Linked DNA regions of Homo sapiens. The protein of the gene in region 2 interacts with the protein of the main gene of each other region in a biochemical or structural test. Each region holds a gene or a part of one and is shown on either strand. Other genes may lie near its edges.

What was found. Proteins that work in one complex are often made in the same cells at the same time.
Region 1: the proteins of RNF186 (region 2) and OTUD5 form a complex in vitro, tested with the Homo sapiens proteins (one study listed by BioGRID).
Region 3: the proteins of RNF186 (region 2) and UBE2H form a complex in vitro, tested with the Homo sapiens proteins (one study listed by BioGRID).

The regions. Positions count from the first base shown.
Region 1 is NC_000023.11:48,940,333-48,947,796, reverse strand, and holds part of OTUD5 (OTU domain-containing protein 5), read left to right. Parts: intron 1-3,513; coding exon 3,514-3,607; intron 3,608-7,464. UniProt on the Homo sapiens protein: Deubiquitinating enzyme that functions as a negative regulator of the innate immune system. Has peptidase activity towards 'Lys-48'- and 'Lys-63'-linked polyubiquitin chains. Can also cleave 'Lys-11'-linked ubiquitin chains (in vitro).
Region 2 is NC_000001.11:19,813,529-19,820,712, reverse strand, and holds RNF186 (E3 ubiquitin-protein ligase RNF186), read left to right. Parts: upstream 1-5,429; 5' UTR 5,430-5,611; coding exon 5,612-6,295; 3' UTR 6,296-6,684; downstream 6,685-7,184. UniProt on the Homo sapiens protein: E3 ubiquitin protein ligase that is part of an apoptotic signaling pathway activated by endoplasmic reticulum stress.
Region 3 is NC_000007.14:129,830,686-129,838,149, reverse strand, and holds the end of UBE2H (ubiquitin-conjugating enzyme E2 H), read left to right. Parts: intron 1-3,088; coding exon 3,089-3,213; 3' UTR 3,214-7,418; downstream 7,419-7,464. UniProt on the Homo sapiens protein: Accepts ubiquitin from the E1 complex and catalyzes its covalent attachment to other proteins. E2 ubiquitin conjugating enzyme that transfers ubiquitin to MAEA, a core component of the CTLH E3 ubiquitin-protein ligase complex.

The DNA.
Region 1 (7,464 bases), on a different chromosome or scaffold from region 2:
CTTGGTGTTTTAATCCTTTGGTCAGGTGGCACCTCCTCTCAGGTGCTAGCCTTAATGACTGTGTTTCTTTTTTTCTTTTTTTTTTTTTTCCTTGAGACAGAGTTTTGCTCTTATTGCCCAGGCTGGAGTGCAATGGTGCGATCTTGGCTCACCACAACCTCCGCCTCCCGGGTTCAAGCGATTCTCCTGCCTCAGCCTCCCGAGTAGCTGGGATTACAGGCATGCACCACCACACCTGGCTAATTTTGTATTTTTCAGTAGAGACGGGGTTTCTCCATGTTGGTCAGGCTGGTCTCAAACTCCCGACCTCAGGTGATCCGCCCACCTCAGCCTCCCAAAGTTCTGGGATTACAGGTGTGAACCACCGTGCCTGGCCCAATGACTGTGTTTCTTTTCTTTTCTTCTTTTTTTTGAGACAGAGTCTCACTCTGTCGCCTAGGCTAGAATACAGTGGTATGATCCCGGCTCACTGCAACTTCTGTCTCCCAGGTTCAAGCGATTCTTCTCCCTCAGCCTCCTGATTTAGCTGGGATTACAGGCATGCACCACCATGCCCAGTTAATTTTTTTTTGTATTTTTTAGTAGAAACAAGGTTTTACCATGTTGGCCAGGCTGGTCTTGAACTCTTGATCTCAAGTGATCCACCTGCCTCGGCCTCCCAAAGTGCTGGGATTACAGGCGAGAGCCACTTCGCCCAGCCTCTTTCTGTTTCACAACACCTGGCATTTACATTTTTCACAGCCTTGTTCATACCTTGTGGTGGTTACCTGTTTCCCTACCCCTCTGCTAAGTAGTTTGTGAGCTTATCAAGAGTGGAGACTAAGTCTGATTCATTTCACTGTCCTCACTGCCCAGCCCAGTATCTTACTTAGTAGCTACCTGGTAAGTCTTTCTTGAATGGATAAGTAGGAGCCCCTCTCCTGTTTGATCTCCTTTTCTCCTCTCTTTTTCCCCTCTCTCCAAAGCCAGGAAGTCGCTGTGTTCCCTTCTTTTTAAGAACCTATTCTTGTGTCAGGTTTGGGACTATAGTTGTGGTTGCACCATCCCTGCTGGAGACCCCTGGCTGGGGCAGGCCCATGACTCTGGGAGATGGCTGACCATGTGTGGCCAGGATGGACTTGGGCATAACTGGCTGGAGTGTGTTAATCCACAGGCTTGGGGGCAAGGAGGGACACCTGGACCACTGGAATGTTGTGCACAAACAGGAGTCCTTGTGCTGCGCATGGAAGCTCATTAAGGGCTTCCAGGTGTCTTTGTCATCTCTAGAAATCCAGCCACATTTTCCTGGGGTGTGGGCCCTGATGATGGGACTGGCTGGGTATTCCCTTGTCACCTCTTCCTCCCCTCCTGTCCCGCTACTCACCTGGGACTTTCTGAGGGTCTCTCAGTTGTGCATAATCTCTGTGCTGATCTCCTCCCCTTCTGTGATTGGCGACAACTTCCCCTAGTATATGGTACGTTATTTACAAAGCTTCTTTAGGTCCTGAAACTCCTCACAGCTCTGTCCGGTAGATCAACATATCCCCCATTCTATAGGAAACTGAGAGTGATAACAGACAGCAAGTGTGTGGCAAAGCTGGGGTTGGAACCCAGAGCTCTTGCGTTCCAAACCTTGTGCTTACAACTTTGCCAGAGATGCTTCTCCTCTGGCTTTCTTAGGGGATGGGTTCCACCCCTTGCTTGAGCTGGGGAAAAATGGCCTTACGGATAGGTGGGCCCCTATGTCTGGTCTCTAATACCCCAGATCCTATAAATCCCTGGGCAGGCCTGTGTCCACAAGGAGCAGGCTTGGGATCCTGTAGTTTGCAGCCTTGTTGCTAGGTCAGGCTGGCTGCTTCTGGTAGCCAGCAGAGGGCGTGAGGGGCCCAGGAAAGGTCTGCTGCTTCTGGTTGGTTTTGTTTTGAAATGAAAATTATGTTTTAAGAGGTTATATGGTCATTATTTTTTTAATTAAAAAATAGGCATTTGTACAGGTTCATTTAAGTTGAACCTTCGTGGTGCCAGGTGTGCTTTGGAATTTAGGAAAAAAACAATTTATAAAACTTACCTGGTGTGTATACTTTGTGTTACATAACACCTCCAGCAGGGTCTGAGGCAGCACCTCATAATCAAACACCTGAATGTTTTCTGCATTGAAATATTTGAATATTTACCCCAAGTGGGATAAATAGATTCTTGTCAGTTCTGGTCAGGTTATGATGCCAAATGAATTAGATAAAGACTTTTGGGCCGGGCACAGTGGCTCATGTCTGTAATCCCAGCACTTTGGGAGGCCGAGGTGGGTGGATCACGAGATCAGGAGATCGAGACCATCCTGGCTAACATGGTGAAACCCCGTCTCTACTAAAAATACAAAAAATTAGCCAGGCATGGTGGCAGGCGCCTGTAGTCCCAGCTAGTCGGGAGGCTGAGGCAGGAGAATGGCATGAACCCGGGAGGCAGAGCTTGCAGTGAGCCGAGATAGTGCCACTGCACTCCGGCCTGGGCAAAAGAGTGAGACTGCATCTCAAAAAAAAAAAAAAAAAAAAAAGACTTGATTTTCAAAGCTTTTTGGGTTTAGTGTAACTTTATAAAAGGGAAAGTGCAATAAAATCGCTGATAACACCAGGACTTAGGGATATTTTGCTGTCTAGCCTTCCCAATTTTGTGTACGTGTGTTTGTATACATACATATGTATATATGTGTAGATATCTGTTAAATGTGTTCAGTCACAGATGAGAACATTGTTTGCACACTTTTGCCTTCTAGAGTATATCTCTTTTTTTTTTTTTTGAGACAGAGTTTCGCTCTTGTTGCCCAGGCTGGAACGCAATGGGGTGATCTTAGCTCACCGCAACCTCTTACCTCCTGGGTTCGAACGATTCTCCTGCCTAAGCCTCCCATGTAGCTGGGATTACAGGCATGCACCACCACGCCTGACTACTTTTGTATTTTTATTAGAGACGGGGTTTCTCCATGTTGGTCAGGCTGGTCTCGAACTCCCGACCTCAGGTGATCCACCCACCTTGGCCTCCCAAAGTGCTGGGATTACAGGTGTGAGCCACCATGCCCGGCCTACAGCATATCTTGGAATCCTCTAGCCCTTTGTCAGGTTCAGGATCTAGGCTCTTGCTAGTTACCCCCTCTTCACCACCTTTCCTAGATGAAACTCCTTGAGGTAGAGCCACATTCTCCACCCAGGCACTTGCTGGGTCTGAGTCTCTGGCTGCCTGAGGCAGTGTGGCTCCCTGGGCCAGGCCCTGCAAGGTCAACAGAAGCCATAAGGCATATGGGGCCACTGTTCTCAGGGCACCTAGGACCCTTTTGGAAGTAAGTCTTAGTTTCACTCAGCAACTAATTCCCTAAAAGAGTCTCCTACTTCACATGCATGGAGTGGTCAAACAGGGCTGAGAACTTTACCTTGGCCAGCGTCCTCTCTGTCAATGATCTAGGCCTCTCGGGAGCTTGAGGTCGGGGCCCTGGGGAGGGAGTACAGGTTTTCCCTGTTGCTGACCCCCACCTCTTCCCTCCAGCAGGAGCATTGGTTTGAAAAGGCCCTACGAGACAAGAAGGGCTTCATCATCAAGCAGATGAAGGAGGATGGCGCCTGTCTCTTCCGGGCTGTAGGTGAGTCTCTGCCTTAGTCCTTAAGGGCCTAGGGCTGCCCCTAAGCTGTGTCCCAGTTATCAGGAATAGCCCCTGAGACAGGGTTGAGGCAGAGCTAGCTAATCTTTTAGGGACTCTAGGCTCCAGCCTCAAGTTGGTATCTGACCTCTAGCCGTGGGTCTTGAGACATTGTAGTGGTGCAAGATTAATATGCATAATAACAGCAAGAAGAATGATAAAGAAAATAATATCCTTTGGGACACATTGTCAGGTGCTACAGGAAACCTCTTTGATTCCCCTCTAAGCTAGGTGAGTGTAGGGACTACTGTTGCTTCCATTTGTCAGATGAGAAAAGTGGCTCAGAGATGGTGGGTGACTTGTCTGGAGTGAAATAATAAGTGGTAGAGTTGGGATTCAGTGTCTGGGTTAGATTAGTCTGAGGCCCATGCTCTTAACCATAGCATACTGCTGCCACCCTGGGCTGTATGACCCCTAGGTTTATACCCAGATCCCATCTCTGGTGTGTTGCGGGTCTCTGTTCCTCAATCTGTGTGTATGGGGGCTATCAGACTAGATCTTTACAAATTTCTTATATCATAGAATTTTTTTTCAACTTATATAAAAGTAGAGAGAATGATGAACCCTCATGTACCCATCATCCAGCTTCAAAATAGTCAATACGTGGCCAGCCTTGTTTCATCACTATCCCGCCCACTCTTTCTCACTCCCCTGAAAGAAGAGTATTTTTAAAGCAAAACCCCGACATTGGATCATTTCATTCATAAATATTTCTGTATGTTTCTCTGACAGATACAGACTTACTCTCTTCTTTTTAACATAATCAAAATGCCATTACTGCACCTAACAGAATTAATAATGCCTTAATACCATCTGTTATCCAGTCTGAGTTAGATCTTTGAGGCCATTTTGGCTCTGAATCTGTGACCCAACAAGTAGTTGTGAGGTCCTGTGCTAGGGTGAAGGGGAAGCTGGGAATGTGACCTGATCCTCCCTGTGGTTCTCTGATATCTACCAAGGAAAAGTGCCCTCTGATAGGAGCTTTGAGCTGGGAGTCAGAAGACCTACCTTCTAGTTCTGGCCCTGACTCATAACTGCTGTGACACTTGGCCTTGGTCTTCCCGTCTGTGAAATGGTGTTGATTCTCAATGCCTCTTTGAGTTCCTTCTTGGTCTGCTATTCTCTCCGTCTGTGGGTACCCCCCATGTCTACTGGTGGGCTGGGGTGTTTTAGGCTCCATCCCTGGCTGCACAACTGATTCTTGGTATGACCTTAGGCAAGCAGCTCTTCTTTCCTGAGGCTGTTTCCTCATCTGTAAAATGGGGCTAAAAGACCCTAATGCTGTAACGATTTAATGAAGTTGCTTTGGTAAATCCCTTTAGTGCCTGACACATATAGTAGACCCTCATGGAACAGTAGCATTTGTAAAACCCAGATGCCATTTTCACTGGTGCCTCAGAGTCACATGTGTTTGTTGAAAGGGTGGAGTGAATGGTCTCCTCTCTATTCTGCCAAGCAGAAGAGGCTCAGGCAATGGGCTCTATTGGACTGGGAAAAAACTTATCCCTCCTACCCCTCTGGCTCAAGTTTGTGTTTTCCCTGGGATGTTTCCCAGAGGAAGAGCTGGGTTTCGGGGCATCTTGGACAAAAGAAAGGCAAAGAAAGAATAGGTGGGGGCCTGTTAGGTGCTAGGCCCTGTGTTGAGACCTCAGGCTAGATGTGGGGTAAGCAGGGCTTCTGGTGGAGTTAGGATTAGAGAATGCAGCGGGCATCTGAGTCTTGGGCAGTCATTGAGGGTAAGCCTTGGGACTGGCTAGTGAGGACCTGGCTTGTGTAGTAACTCATATCAAGAGCCGTGTGTGTGTGTGTGTGTGTGTGTGTGTGTGTGTGTGTATCTAGCTAGCTGTTCTCTGTGTGTGTGTGTGTGTGTGTGTGTGTGTGTGTGTGTATGTGTGTGTGTATCTAGCTAGCTGTTCTCCCCAAATACCCCCGACCCTTGGGGCTAGCTAGTGAGGACCTGGCTTGTTGTAGTAACTCGTATCAAGAGCAGTATTTGTGTGTGTGTGTGTGTCTATATGTATCTAGCTGTTCTCCCCAAATACTCCCGACCCTTCCTCCCACTGGGGCCTTCAGTAAGGGGCCTCTACTTACAGGAAGAGCTGACCAGGGCAGGTTGAAGGCCTTTCCTTATCGGCACTATGGCTACACATTTCCCCTGACTGGGCTGCCTTTGGCTTTTCTCTGTAAAACCTCAGAAGTCCTCTGGCCTCTCCCCCGAAGTACATGGCCCTTGGTCTCTAGACCTTATCTGGAGGTTTCCTTGGTGCAGAGTGCATAATACATGTGCCTGGGAAGGGGACTTTGTCCCTGGGCTTTTTGCTGCCCCCGTTTCCAGCCTCGCCTGGATGGGGACAGATGGCAGTCAGCTTAGACTGTAGTGTGAAGCCCTACAGGCTGACTTCCTGCCATGTGTTGAATAGTGGAAGGAACGTGGAGCAGAGAGTTGGAGTTGGGCGGGGGCTGCAAACATAGAGGGCACTGTTTCCTTGACCCCTGCTGTGTGCTAGGCATTCAGCTGGGTGCTTCAGGCTCACTGCAAAACTTGGATCATTATCCCATGAGACAGGTGAAAAGATTGAAGCATAGAAAGGGAAATGACATGCTCAGGGCCATTAGCCAGAGCTGGCCTGGGAACCCAGAGGTGTCCAAAGGACACGCATTCTTTTTTTTTTTTTTTTTTTTTTTTTTTTTTTTTTTTTTGAGATGGAGTCTCCCTCTGTCGCCCAGGCTGGAATGTGCAGTGGCGTGATCTCGGCTCACTGCAACCTCTGCCTCCCGGGTTCAAGTGATTCTTCTGCCTCAGCCTCCTGAGTAGCTAGGATTACAGGCGTGCACCACCACACCTGGTTAATTTTTGTGTTTTTAGCAGAGATGGGGTTTCACCATGTTGGTCAGGCTGGTCTCAAACTCCTGACTTTGTGATCCACCCGCTTTGGCCTCCCAAAGTGTTGGGATTATAGGCATGAGCCACCGCATCCGGCCAGGACACATTCTTTTTATGATCCTAGGATCCTTAGCTTCTTAGCTTGGTTGTCAACTGGCTGGATGACCTTGGCTGTGTTCCTTGACTTCTCTGGACCTTACCTCCTCCAAGTAGGAGCACGTGGCCCTCTGTTGTTGGGAGTCTTGAGGCAGGTGGCTTTCTGCCTTCTGTTCCCCTGGATTATCTTCCTATAGGGTCCTACCATTTGCTTTAGAGACTTCTGAGAATTGCCTACTCCCCAGGTAGCTGCCTGCCTGCCATTGGTTCCCCTGAGTTAAGCAATATCCATTGCTTGCGCTCAGTTCTCTCCCACCTCCTCTTATTGGGGATTCATGAGCATCATTGAAGGCTTGGGTGGAGTGGAGGTGGGAACCTGAGCCTCAGAGGTATCCTGTGGCCCACCCTGTCCCTGTTATGCTCAGATAACCTCCTCCTGGAAACATGACTCTGCATCTCTCCCTTGCTCCCTCCCTCCATGTGGCTTTGACTCAGCAGAAACCTCTAACCCTGACCAGGGTCCTGGTGCTAGCTTCTGTGGGCAGAGTGAAGGCCACATGGTTGTTTCTACATGGGCCATGGGGGAGTGGCAAGGGCTGTGCATGTTACCACGATGAGGCCCAGAAACATTAGCTAGGCCCACTCTTCTGGGCCTTTTGGTCTTGGAACATCAGCACTAGGAGGGATGGATCTGAGATCAATTTTGATTGTTTTATAAATGGGGAAACTGAGGCCTCAAGAGAAAGCCAAGACCCTACCCTATCTAGGTCATACAACCAGTGTCAGAACATTGGTATTTGAGGTTGAACCAGGCCACAGA
Region 2 (7,184 bases):
CGAGTTCGAGACCAACCTGGACAACATGGTGAAACACCGTCTCCACTAAAAATACAAAAAAAAATTAGCTGGGCATGGTGGCACATGCCTGTAGTCCCAGGTACTCAAGCGGCTGAGGCAGGAGAATCTCTTGAACCCGTGAGGCGGAGGTTGCAGTGAGCCAAGATTGCACCATTGCACTCCAGCCTGGGCAACAAGAGCAAAACTGCATCTCAAAAAAAAAAAAAAAAAAAGACGGAAGATTTGAGTCCAGGGAGTGAGGTCAGTAGTAGTAATGGCCCCCCTGCCCCATTCACAAGCCTCTGTCATTTCATTGGCTCCTCAGTAAGGAGACAGGGCAGGTGTCCATTTCACAGACGGAGAGAACTGAGGCCTAGAGAGGTTAAGCGACTTGGCCACTGACTGCCTGTCGGTGGTGAGTTCAGAGCTCTAGCCCAGTGAGTGCCCTCCATCTCAAAAAAAAAAAAAAAAAAGACAGTGTAGTTTTCCAACTTCCTGCAGTTTGTGCCCGAGGCATTCACTATCTCTGTTACATTGTCTTTCTCTCTATACAGTCATAATTTTCTCATTATTGTTATTTTGGTTCCAGATCCCTTTCTTCTGTCTCCTTGGCAATCTATCCTCAGACACGCAGATTCTTGGTGAGGGGTGGGGGTGGGGGTGGGGGGCTGAAAATAGGGATGGAGCCTGCCATGCTCTAAGGAGCACAGAGGCGAGAATTCTGGGACAAGAGTGTGAGCTGAGATGGTTTCCATTCAGCCCAAGGCAAGGAGGAGTGGAGAGCAACTCGGCGTTTGGCTGGGACCTGGCTCCCTGTGTTCACTGGAGTGTGGGGTGAGGGTCAGCTGATCAGGACAGAGGCCAAAGATGAGTGGACAGTTTGATCTCAGAACAGTGCTGCCACCTGACTCCTTTCTGACTTGACGGGAGGCCTAAAATTCAGATCAGACATGTTTTTGCAAAGGTACATGGGTGTGTGGTTCCTTGCACATGTGATTTCCAACATGATCTTCCTCAACTGGACTGGCTCCGGCTCCCCAGCCTGCAGCTAGGCTTGAAATTTCACCCCAACATGAGACTGTGTTTCTCACGATGGAGTGCGTATGACCCCAGGGCTGTGAGAAGCCATAAGATGGAAGAAACTGCATTTCAAATGAAAAAAGAAAAAAAAGCTTTACTCAAGATTAATGAGTTCATATTTGTACAGCAATTAAAACAAACAAATATGTTTTATTTGGAGATTTGGAAGGATTCGTGCATGCTTCGGGATTCTAATGTTGCAGTAAGCACAAATAGAACATGGAGAAGAATGTGAAACCTAGATGAATTTAACATTTTAAGTCTCCGGAGACACTTTTGAATTCCCCTGGGGTAGATCTGCTTCAGGCTCCACCTCAGACTCTGCCCATATTCACTCCTCTTCAAGAAGCATTGGCCGAATCAGTCACCAAAGTGTCTTATCTCATGTCCCTGGAAGAGATCAATTTCACCTAGGTCAGTTACAACCCAAAGTACATAAATTACTAAGCCTCCTGTGAGCAGGTTGTAGTCAGGGGTGGAGGGCTTAAATAATCCATAATTTCCTCAAGTGTTAACGTCTCCATTTTGTTTTATTTTATTTTATTTACTTTTTTTTAAATACAGAGTGTCACTCTGTCACCCAGGCTGGAGTGCAGTGGCACGATCTTGGCTCACGCAACTGCGACCTCCCAGGCTCAAGCTATCCTCCTGCCTCGGCCTCCCAAGTAGCTGGGGCTACAGGTATGCACCACCAGGCCCAGCTATTTTTTGTATTTTTAGTAGAGATAGGGTTGCACCTCATTGCCCAGGCCGGTCTCGAACTCCTGAGCTCAAGCGATCCACCCACCTCTGCTTCCCAAAGTGCTGGGATTACAGGCTTGAGTCACTGTGCCCGGCCTCCATTTTATCAAATTTTAAAACTGAACTGCAGTGAAGTTAAAATTCTTGCCCAAGGTCACATAGCTGGTAAAGTGACAGGAGCCAGATTTCCAGCTATAGTCAGTGCTGGTGATAGTTAAGGCAAGGCACTTTTGAGAAACAAAGTTGTTCCTAAGCCAAGATGGTAGGAGGAGGACAACAGGAAGGAATGCTCTGTTAACAGTGGTCATTTCTCAGGGGTTGCAGTAAGATGAACTTTCACATTCTACTTTATTTCTGTAATACTTGGGTTGTTCCAGCCAATATGTTTTCTTAACGGTGGTTGCCCAATGATGTTAAAAGGTTATTTTTTAGGCTCTAACCCCAAATAACTTCCCTTGGTCTGATTTCAACCTCACTCAGCTACCTTCTGACAATTTGATTTCCCATTAAGCTGGCTAGAGAGAGAGGCACTGGCCGGCTGGGTGAAGCGGCTCATGCCTGTAATCCTAGCATTTTGGGAGGCTGAGGCAGGTGAATCACCTGAGGTCAGGAGTTTGAGACCGATCTGGCCAACATAGTGAAAGCCCATCTCCACTAAAAATACAATATTAGCCGGGTGTGGTGGCACACGCCTGTAGTCCCAGCTACTCAGGAGGCTGAGACAAGAGAATCGCTTGAGCCCGGGAGGCAGAGGTCGCACTCCAGCCTGGGCAAGACAGAGCGAGACTCTATCTCAAAAAAAAGTGAGAGGGACACTGGCCAAGCCAACATCACTGTGTGGCCCACCTGATTTTCTATTCTTATTATAAATGAATGTGGCTCAACACATTTTTCTCCTCTCATCCCTAATCCATCCTAGGGTCTCACAAACAGAAAATAACATTATGCAATGCAAGTCCAAGCAGAGAAAACACAGAATCTCTTCTAGCATGGTAACACACAGGCATTCGGTCACTCTTGTCCGTGTACAAAGTCTGGTTGTCTCATCAATGCCTGACCCTTTGTCAGAGAGCAAGTAAAGGCTTCTTTTCTTCATCCATTGCTGTGTTACATAGAGGTCTTTCACTTGCAAGGGACAGAAGTTCAATTTGAACTGACTTAAGAATAAAAATCAGGGTAGATTTTATAGGTTAATATCCTTGAAAAAATCCAATGCTAGGTGTCCTGCTTCAGGTGTTCAAATAACATCATCAGGCCTTTGTCTGATTCTTTTCTCATTTTTCTTTTGTGCTGACCTTACTCTTGAGCAGGTTCTCTGCACACTGTGGTCCTGGCAGCCCCAGGGTTCCATCCTCTAACTTAGAAACCCAGCACAAAGAGAAACTTCTCAAGGGCTCCAACAGAAGTCTCAGAATTGAATCTCATTGGCTTGGCTTCGATTATATGCCTACGCTCAAACCAATGGCTGCAGCTAGCAGAGCAGAGCATGCTAACTGGCCTGTCCTGAATTGTATCAGGGCCCCACTTCCAGAGAGCTGGAGCCAGACATCACCCTCTCCGTGAGCACAGAATGACGGTGGGAAGCAGTGGTTGCCCAAAGTGAAAACAGAGAACTGTTACCCAAAAAAGGGGAAAGAATGCTAGGCATGGGGGAAAAAACATGCCTAGATCCAAGGCCACCTTCAGCTTGATCTGGGGGAAAACGTGATATAGATGTGTATCTATACCTTAGTATCTGAGACAGGTCTCAGTTAATTTAGAAAGTTTATTTTGCCAAGGTTGAGGACACATGTCCGTGACACAGCCTCAGGAGGTCCTGATGACATGTGCCCAAGGTGGACAGAGCACAGCTTGGTTTTATACGTTTTAGAGGGACATGAGACATCAATCAACATATGTAAAATGAACATTGGTTCCATCTGAAAAGGTGGAGCAACTTGAAGCAAAGGCAGGAAGACCTGAAGTGGGGAAGGGGCTTCCAGGTCACAGGTGGATAAGAATGGTTACATTCTTTTGAGTTTCTGATTAGCATCTCCAAAGGAGGCAATCAGATATGCATTTGTCTCAGTGAGCAGAGAGGTGACTTTGAATAGAATGGGAGGCAGGCTGGCCCTAAGCAGTTTCCAGCTTGACTTTCCCTTGTGGCTTAGTGATTTTGGGGCCCCACGATTTATTTTCCTTTCACAGAGGTAACTGATGGTCTAGCTACAGGTTGAGAAGAAATGGGATGGGATGGTGAGAGTATTGGATTTCAGAGATAGAGGGCCCAGGGGGAGTGGGGAGGTGGGAGTTACCGATCCCACAAGGGAGGGAGCCCCTTTGGGGCTGGTGACTCCAGGACACAGAGGGTGGCCTGCAGTGCCAGCTACTGGGGTAAGGGAAAGAGCTGAATCAGAGGCACAGGACTCTGTGTGGCCCTTGGCAGGTGACATGAGCACCAAAGGATCCTTCACACGGGCTTCTGAGTTCAGAGTGGCCTGAATGAAACATTTGTTTGAGGGAGTGCACATGCCACCCCGCCATTTGCCCTTGAGGGCAAAGTAAGGAAATCACGTTTTCCTAACTGCTGTGTTACTAATATCTGCCTGTCTCACATGAGTCCTCTTAGCCTACGCCACCCGGCTGGGGCCAGTTGTGTCCAAATGAACCAATGAAATTGATTCAACCAGACCTTGGACGCTGGTAGATTCCACAAGGTCCTGCTCCATGGAAGGCCCCTTGGCAGGCAGCCAGCAGCCTACCCTGACCACACCCTGCCCTTGTTTCCCAGCCTTCCCTACAAGGCTGTATCAGGGTTCCGGGAAATGGGGGCTGGGGACCCCGGGCACAGGGCTTGGCTTAGAGTAGGCCCAAATAAATGGCAGCTGTTCTTAGTACTACTGGATACGCAGCATGCCTAGCACAAAACAGGACACCTGTGATTAGGCATGTGAAGTGTGCAGCAGGGCACCGATGGGAAGTTCATACACCCGTAACTGTGAATACAACAGCTGTGGCTCTAAGGAAATGAATACAGTAGCAGGTGCCAAACACCTGTGCGCTGTATGTGGTTTTGTTTTTCTGCGTTGGGTTGGGCTTTGTCCTCCTTCCACTCACTTTTCTTACCTCTCCCCTCCTCTTTCCAAGGCCACCTGCCTGTAAATGTGCTCCAAGTGCAAACAAACTTTTTTCCACTCATCCTGACATCCAAAAGTTTGTGTCTGAGAAAGCAGTGTCCACCAATCCACCTATGTCCGACTCATAGGGCTGTCTGTTTATTGTGCAGATTTGTAGATGCCAGTGAGCCAAGATCGGGCCACTGCACTCCAACCTGAGAGAACGAGACTCCGTCTCAAAAAAAAAAAAAAAAGTTAAATAAAAAAAATTAATAAAAGGTTCAGGGACCTGGGAAGTGGGGGTGAGAGAGTTGGATTCTGCTGCCTCCTAAAGCTTGAGCCACAGTTCTGTGGGCACCCACCAGGTACCTGGCCCCAACAGGAAAGTCCTGATTCACTAGACCCTTGCCCACTTTGCCCTCCTATCAGGCAATTCAAAGTCTCCAGACCCGCAAGTTACTGATTAACCCTAGGTTTTGAGAAAATAAATAATAATAACTGAAGGGACGACGTAAGCCAAGAAACAAGCTGGGCAGCTCTGGGAGAGAGGAGTGTCAGACAGCTGTTGTCAACAGGCACCTGGCCAGAGTGAAAAGGAGGGGCAGATTCCATCCAAGTCCCAGCGGCGCCAGCTGACACTCTCTGCCAATGCCCAGGTGCTGAGCGACAGTGTCCCACCGGTCCCTGTGCCCAGAATGGCCTGCACCAAGACCCTGCAACAGTCCCAGCCCATCTCCGCAGGAGCCACCACAACCACCACCGCTGTGGCCCCTGCTGGGGGTCATTCTGGCTCCACAGAATGTGACCTGGAGTGTCTGGTGTGCCGGGAGCCCTACAGCTGTCCCCGGTTGCCCAAGCTGCTGGCCTGCCAGCATGCCTTCTGCGCCATCTGCCTGAAGCTCCTGCTGTGCGTGCAGGACAACACCTGGTCCATCACCTGCCCGCTGTGCCGCAAGGTCACCGCCGTCCCCGGGGGCCTCATCTGCAGCCTGCGCGACCATGAGGCGGTGGTGGGGCAGCTGGCCCAGCCATGCACAGAGGTATCGCTCTGTCCTCAGGGGCTGGTGGATCCTGCTGACTTGGCAGCAGGACACCCCAGCTTGGTGGGAGAGGATGGACAGGATGAAGTAAGTGCAAACCACGTGGCAGCCCGGCGCCTGGCCGCGCACCTACTCCTGCTGGCCTTGCTCATTATCCTCATCGGGCCCTTCATCTACCCGGGTGTCTTACGATGGGTGCTCACCTTCATCATCGCCCTGGCCCTGCTGATGTCCACCCTCTTCTGCTGTCTCCCCAGCACCCGGGGCAGCTGCTGGCCCTCCTCCAGGACTCTCTTCTGCAGAGAGCAGAAACACAGCCACATCTCTTCCATTGCCTGAGTGCCCTCTGATGAGGCTATCCCTGCAGCCCTTTCTGCCCTTGGGCCCCCGGACTTCCACAATGAACAGGGTAAGGGGTTACGGACTAAGACTGGCTCCTTTGGGAAATCACATGCCAGCGGGACTTGCAAGCCACAACCGAGATGGCCAGCCTGGGTCAAGAATTACACGCTTGGATGACAGGCTTGCACTTGCCCTTGGGATAGCATAGCTAAAACTGTTGGTGGCTAGGGGAGCAGACACAAACTACTTGAACATGACAAGATGGGGGAAGCTCCTGTTCCTCTTATTCCAATGTTCTTGGTTTTTCTTTATATAACTTGATGAAAGTATTGCAGTATTGATGCCATTGTAGAATAGAACTGGAATTCCATTCTTTTTGCAATTTATGTAGCTGGTTTTGTTTTCTTGTTTTCCTTTGTTTTTTTGGGTTTGGGGCAGCAGTTGGTTCACATTTCCCTTTGTTACACATTTTCCCTCCTGGGAGCTTGGAGTCCACGGGGAGGTCCCACTGCGCTTCCTCTAACACTGAGCATCTCATGCCCAGCCTAGCCTCGGCAAGTGTCCTGGTTGTTTAGGTCTCCCATGGAGTTGACCCTAGGGTTGGGGAGACAAAATGTGTGTGAAGGGATGGTGTTTCTGAAGCTGCAGGGGGAGTCCCACATTTAGCTGGCAGAGATGGGGAGGGGTGGAGAGGGCAGGGTTTGGGAATTGCTCCCAGTATCCTCACTAGGAGTTCCCCACTCCGTGCCACTAGGCCCTGACTTAGCAGCAAATCTCGGGGTTACAAGGACTGCAGTCCACATACAGTGGGGCCAGCTGCCCATCTATTGCACAGTCCCACACGGTAGAACTAGATCTTTATGGATGTTACCGTCTTTGTTATTGC
Region 3 (7,464 bases), on a different chromosome or scaffold from region 2:
ATTTATGTAGCAAAATATATAGCTAAGCAAACATGTATTTGAAGAAAAAGGCAGTCAGTTTCAGCCAGATAAAGTGCTGTTATGAGACTATATTAAAATTTTGACATAGGAATCACTTAGCAATGTCTGCAAACCACAGATATCTTGGAGCAGAGTATATTTCTCTAGTTCACATATGCATTCTGTCTCAACAATTTAGCAGTAGCCCTGTTTCAGTACATGTCTGCTATAGTCCCATTTACAAAAAGAACCGAGCCTACATTTATCTTAGAATGGCTCACTCCAGCGTACGGACCCCTAGCCTTCGGAAATGTTCATGTTGGCTATCATTTTGTCTTCCTTAGTAATCTCAGAAAATCATGGCCATCAGACCTGAGCTCACCCCCACTTCCTACTGTGCCTTGATATCTTCTCCCTTCCCTCCTGCATCTTTTCTTTGTTCCTAACTATAGGAAATAAATAAGAGACACCCTTCCTCATTTCTCAAACTCACTCCCACCACCAATCTGTGATCTTGTTCCCCCAACCCCCCGCCCCCTCCCAATGCAGTCTTCCTCCTCCACCCCATCAGAGGTCTCCCTGTTTCAGGAGCAGTGATCTGCTCCTGTGGGCTCTCTTAGGAGTCATGCTGTTTATTCCTTTTCATTTTCAAACTTCTTGCGTCCTCACCTTAAACTCCTCTAGTTTTTTTCCCCTCCTCTGCTTAATCTGTGCCCTCATTTCTTCCCAATCCTTTGGACTCTTCTCAAGTCCCATTTTGCTGGACCTTTCTGCAAGTGTTACATTTTACCCTCATCTTTCTGGAAACTTCTCATTCCATTTCCTAAATGTGGTCATTCACTTAGGACTCGGTCCCTGGGCTCCCTCTCTTCCTTTGTCATCCCTGAGGAGCTGTTTCACCTCTCACAGCTTCAGTCAGTCCCCTCCAGGGAGATGATTTCTGAATGTGTGTCTAGGCCTGGCCTCTCTCCCAAGCTGCTGCTGGACATTTCCATTTGTGTGGCAGTCACCACCAACCCAACACAGCTAACACAGTCAGTGTTCATATTTAGTTGGCGCTGTATTATAGTACATGTTTGAAAAAGTGTTTAAATATTGGATAGCCCGTAGCACTGGGCACCATTGGAGCTGTCTAAAGCTGTCACTTCCCTGCTCAAAACCCTTTGCTGGGTGACATCTTTGCCTGCCATTCAGGGCTCTCTGATACTGAGTGGAATCTACATCTTTGCCCTTACTCCTTTTTTTTTTTTTTTTTTTTTTTTTTTTTTTTGAGACGGAGTCTTGCCCTGTCGCCTAGGCTGGAGTGCAGTGGTGCGATCTCGGCCCACTGCAGCCTCTGCCTCCCGGGTTCAAGTGATTCTCCTTCCTCAGCCTCCCGAGTAGCTGGGATTACAGGCATGTGCCACCACATCCAGCTAGTTTTTTGTATTTTTGTAGAGATGGGGTTTCACCATGTTGGCCAGGCTGGTCTCGAAGTCCTAACCTCAGGTGATATACCCGCCTTGGCCTCCCAAAGTGCTGGGTTTACAGGCATGAGCCGCTGCACCTGGCCATAGTTCTCTCTTAAGGTTGTGTTTAAACATCCCAGCCACTTACTTTCAACAAAACAAAGCCTTTCCCTGGAGTGGCCTCTCCTATGCCATAGCTGGCAGGACTTGGGGGTCAGTGTGGCTGGGACTGCCTCGGCCGTTTTTCGTCCGTAACTGCTTCCCTCTGGTGACACTCAGCAGCTCCTTTTATCTTCCTCTGTTTCCTCCTCCTCATTGGTGACCTTGCTCTTCCTTTCTCTCTCTCAAAGGCCTTGTCCTAGTAAGTACTTAATATACATTTGTTTCCTTGAATACATTAAAGAGGGCTGATAGTATCAAATTCTAGTGTCAAAAAAAGGTCAATATTTATCTTCTACAAAGGAAGACGCAAAATAGTCAACCCATTAGAGGTTAAAAATAAAATTGTTAAAGTTTGAATAAATATTTCTCAATTAAGGTAAATTCCTACCTAATCATGGGCTACTTTAATCTCATCAAAATCATTAGCATAAAATTTTGTTATAATGAATTTGAAGGGCTCTAAGTCTCAAGTCTGCAAACCTTTTCTGTAAAGGACCACATTGGCCAGATGTGGCCTTTATCACACATTCTGTTTATTATTTTTTAAGACAGTTTTTAAAATATAAAAACATTCTTAGCTAGGCCCTGTGCTAGTTATTCAAATCTGGTAGGCCCATTTGGCCATTCAGCTTATCTTCCTATTGCAGTGAGTCCCCGCAACTCTATAGGAGGAAAAACAAAGCCACAAGGGTGTGTTTTTGTGTGGCTTGCATTTTGAATAGGTTTCTGTCATGTCTTTTCCTATTGTGTGGAGGCTGTTCACTTGAAAACAGTATGCACTTAGAGTTTTTAGGAACAAGTTTGTTTATTCAGCAGTTCTTAAAAGCCGTTTCAGCAGTCTTATTCAGCCTAGGGTTCCACCAAGGCTGTAGCAGCGGAAATCTACCTTCAGGTAAATTATACATGGAAAAACCACTCAGAGCCGAGTGGTGTCTCCGTATAGCAGCTTAGTCCTGAGCAGATTGAGCGATGGTTTTTGCCAGCTGCTTCAAAAACCTGACAGGCAGGATCTGTTTAGACTAAAATCGATTCCTAAAATAATAGACCTGGACTGACCGTAATTATGTAACTGCAGATCTAAAAATGATGAAGGATTTCCTTATAAATTACTATGGAATCATGACTGGTCCTATACTATCTGGGAGATGAAAGTAAAAAGAAAGCGTGGGGCTCCCATTTCCCTGGTCCCTGAAGAGTTCTTGGGGTGCTGCAGCACACACATTCCCCTGCAAGCTGAGCCTGCTGTGTTGCTCTTCCCAATACCCCTTTCCTCAGGGGGCAAAATGCAGAAACCCTGTCCCAAAGAAGTCTCCCTATGGGATTCTCCTTAGCTGTAGTGATCATGATTACTGTCATCTTTGTCCCCCCTGGTGTTCAAGGTAAGTTTGAACCTCCGCAGCCTTGCCAGCTTTTTGGGGTCGCCAAAGCACATGCCTGCCCACTCACTGCCCTTGTTGTCTTTCTCCCACCCCGTGCAGAGTACATCCAGAAATACGCCACGGAGGAGGCGCTGAAAGAACAGGAAGAGGGTACCGGGGACAGCTCATCGGAGAGCTCTATGTCTGACTTTTCCGAAGATGAGGCCCAGGATATGGAGTTGTAGTAGAAAAAGCACCTGCTTTTCAGAAAGACTATTATTTCCTAACCATGAGAAGCAGACTATAATATTCATATTTAAACAAAGCAATTTTTTTTATTACTAAACAAGGTTTTTATGAATAATAGCATTGATATATATATATTATATATCACCCTTTAGATCTTGATTTCTTGGTCATTTCTCAACCTGAGGTGCATAGCATATTCCCACATTCCATTTGGTAGCAATATGCGGTCTGAATGCATGCATTCATGAGTCCATGTGGCCAAGTCAGCCTGTGTGCTACTGAACTGTCGAAGGAAATAGCCGCTCTGATAGGTAGATGTGAGTAAAAAGAACAGGAAAAAATTGCTTCTTTTATTGGTTTCCAAAGAAACAAACCAAACCAACCAGCTCTTGGATGTGAAGATAAAATAGTGCTTTTTTGAAATGGAGAGGAAAAACTTGGGGAGGAAGAGGCCTGCTGTGGGGGCATCGGAGCCAGCCATGTAAGAATCAGAGCTGCTCCTTCCTGTGAATCCTAGGTGGCCCTATGTCTTCTGTGGAGTTACAGTATAAAGCAGGGAGCTAATTAAGAGTATTAAAACTTAAAACCATTTTTTGACTCTGATTTTAAGTACATTTTTATATGTCAGTTGCTGCCCTTCACACTACCAGGCCCTGCAGCCACAGTGTTCTGTTGGAGAAACTTGGGGAAGTGTTTTCTGAACCAGTTCTTTTTCTTGGGGTAGAGCGTGAAATCCAGACCTGTTTTTGAAAGGACAGCACAGGAGGAGAAAAGTGACTGGGACGATGCTTCCTCTCATCCAAAACACATGCAGAGTCACATCCTCATCCTAGTGTTTGGCAGTTTGAGACCGCTACCCTGAACTTAAGAGCTTTAAATATGAGGGTTGTGTTTCTGGGGGGGTTATTTTTTTGGTGTGTGTGTGTGTGTATTGTGCTTAGAAAGGTTGCAGATTTCATCTTCACCTACCAAGAGGCGGCCGCCTCCTTGGACAAGCCGCTCATGGACCATTAGACTTGAGAAGACGACCCACGTGGTGACTGCAAAGCCCTGGGTACTTGCCTTCATGTTCTGGTTTGGTTTTCCCTTTTTCTGCTGCTCTTGGCAGCAGCCTGGTCATCATCTGCTTGTGGGAGTGGGAAATGGGTATTTTAGACCCAACACAGGTTCTAAATTTAAAACAAATAATAATTGGAACAAATAAAGGTTCTTGTACCCAGAGTGATTCTACATGGGAAAAACAAACCAGCTTTTTTCAGAGAGTGACCGAATAGGAAGAAGGGATTCAGAAATATGATGTAGTAGAACATGCCCTGCAGGAAGAAAATGTTTTCTCTCCTGCGTATGTTAAGAGGAAATCAGTTTAAAATGCCTGCTAATCAAATGTCGACTCAGCTAACCATATGTCCAGGTTGCTGCAGAGTTTCTTTCAAATCTGAGTGTTGCCTGCTGAACTCGGAGGGGAGTTTGGAGAAATTTTAGACAGCAGCTCTGTGTTCTTTTTTTGCCGCAGCCAATAAGATAATAGCAGAATTAGCCAATCCTAAAACCTTCTAAAGACGATTTTTGAGCATCCCACTGGGATTATTTAATTTTTCTTTTTGACGTGTGTTTTTAGTTTAGAAGTGCTGTATTCCACAAGGTTTAAGTCAGTGAGGTTGGAAGATACCCTATCTTTTTTATTCAAAAAGCACAATCAATCTTTTGTTTGAAAATCTATATAAAGTACAACTTGCTTTTAGCATGATTATTTTCCTAAATAAAAAGACAAAGAATTTACTTACTTTATGTTAATTACGGGCATGAAGCAAAAGGTTTTCTTTAAAAAAAAAAAAAAGTGCAGTGATGTAGGGCTGTGGTTAGTTAACCGTACTGAGTTATCCATCTAGCATCTGTGGCTTGCTGGAAGGGTAGTATTAACTATTTAACATGTAATGGTGTACTTCACTCTTACCTAGCACGCTGTCTTCTCATTGCTTTGGGGGAGGGAGGGTCTCTCTGCTGGCACTGTCTAACTTGCTTACCTGCTGACTTTGCAGTTTGCTTGTGCTATGACATTTATTGTAGGTGCTATTTAGGGTAGGCTTAAAGTGCTGGGTGGTGATTTGAGTTCAAACAATAAAAAATTGTATTTTTTCAATATTGTATAAACAATAGTGTTCTAATTACCTTAAAAAAAAATAATGACCAGTTAAGAATTGCTTTTGATCTTGTCAAAAAACTGAATAGACCCCAGTTTCGGGAAGGTGTGTGAGCAGTGCCATGACTCTGCCCCTTACCTAATCCCACATCTCTCTAATGATAAGACATTGGCTCGCCTCTGACCAGAGCCCCAGCACCAGAGAGCGGAAGATGCAGAATTGTCAAATGACCTGCTGGGGGAGGTTGTAGGAGTTTAGCAGATTTGAGTGTGGCTGCAGAGAGAGAGAGTGTGTGTATGTGTGCACATGTGTGAGAGTGTGAGCGAGAGTGTGTGTGTGTCCATCTAAGTGTGTGTGATGAAGGTGGGATAAGGCTCCTCTGTTAGTGCTGGAAGCTCCTGTAATTGCCGCATGGATCCCACTGTGCCCTCTTGTTCTGTGCAAGTCTGTCCTGTCTGGGCACTAACCTTGGTCCCATGCATGTTTATGTTCTGGGTGGGGCTTTGCCTCTCCACTGGGAAACTGACTTTTGCTGGGTTGAACAGAGTCCCTTATGCTTTTTGTCCTCTCCCTGCGCCTGGGAGAGGTGGGAGTAGGAGCCCAAACACACAGGTACAGAAAGATCTGGAAGAAGGCCTGGCAGTGAATCCAAGGACTCTGGGCCCCCAACAATAGATGGTAGCGTAAGTCTGGAGCAGCGGTGTTTCACCACCAAATGCCTTTCCAGGCTGCCCTTCCAACACTCAGGAGAGCATCCAGATCCCTGGGCAGAGGCTCTACATTCTTGGCTTTAGAGGTGGTGGCAGCGGCAGCAGGTCAGAGCCACTTCTGGCGGTTTCCCTCCCCTTTTTAGTGCCCATAGTTTTTGGATCCTCCCTTGAGTTTTACCAGCACAAGCCATTCTTTGCCCCTGTTCACATAACTGAGCTCAAGCTCTTGCCAAACACCAACAAGCAAGATGGTTGCAACCTGGCAACATTGAATCCACCACCCTTGGGCTCCCTCTGGAAGCCCCAGCACCGGGGGGCTTTTGGGCACAGGGTCAGTGGTAGCCATCTTAGACACTGACATTTGGCTTTGTCGTCAATTTCATCACCCTCCTTGAGGTTACTGTGCAGTTTCAACCAGCATTTTATCCTAGTGAGGTCATTATCAGGAGTTGCCATATCATCTCTCCAGTACCTAACATTTCTCATCCACTTCAAAAGCTGTTCTGACTGCCAGCTGGCTGATCTAAGCTCCTGAGGAATGTCTCCTCTCAAAGGAATTTTTCCCTCCAAAGGCCCCCTGAAGTCCTAGTTGGCATTGGCCTGGCACATGCTTTATGTTAGGCCTCCCGTTGGGATGGCTGAGAATCATGAAAGACAGATCCTCCGCTAGCCTCTGTGGGTCAAGTTTCTGGACACCAAGTCTCTGGGAACTAGTGTTTGATTTTAAATGGCATGTGGCCCTTCCTTGTTTCAGTGACTTAGAAAAGTAAAAGCCATTTAAAAAAGTTAGCAAGATTTTTTATCGACTTCCCAACTGGGCTTCCAGCCTTGTTGAATGAAATCATCTATCTCTGATTGGGCGCAACGAACTGCATTTCTTTGGACTTCTGAATCCATGTTTGTGCTTTCTCTGGCCCGTGAACACCTCGGCGATTCTGTTAGGGATGGGATGAGTGGGAGGAAGCCCTTTGAGAAGGGGGAGCCGGCCCTGTCATGCGCAGGTTTTCCACTCATCTGAGGAAGAGCCAGGGCTCTGAATTTAGCCTAACACTCATCTTGGCTGTGGGCTTGGGAAGAAATGGCCATTATTTACAGATTGTATTTGGTACATATTGTGTGATACTTGAAAAGATAAAAGGGACTGCCAGCCCCTAACTGAAATCTGAAGCTTTTTATCGCTTATTTTTCCTCGCCCTGTCTCCTCCCTTCCACCTTTCTCCTTGCATTGTGATGATCTAGTAGGCACGTCTGTCAACAGGACACATGCCTCCTCTGACTATAACCTCTTAATAGTTGTGTATAATGAAAACTGTAAACTTTTTTAAATAAACGTGTATATACCTTGGCAAATGGCTGGACCTTGATCAATAAGATAATAGCCCTCATGATTACTCTC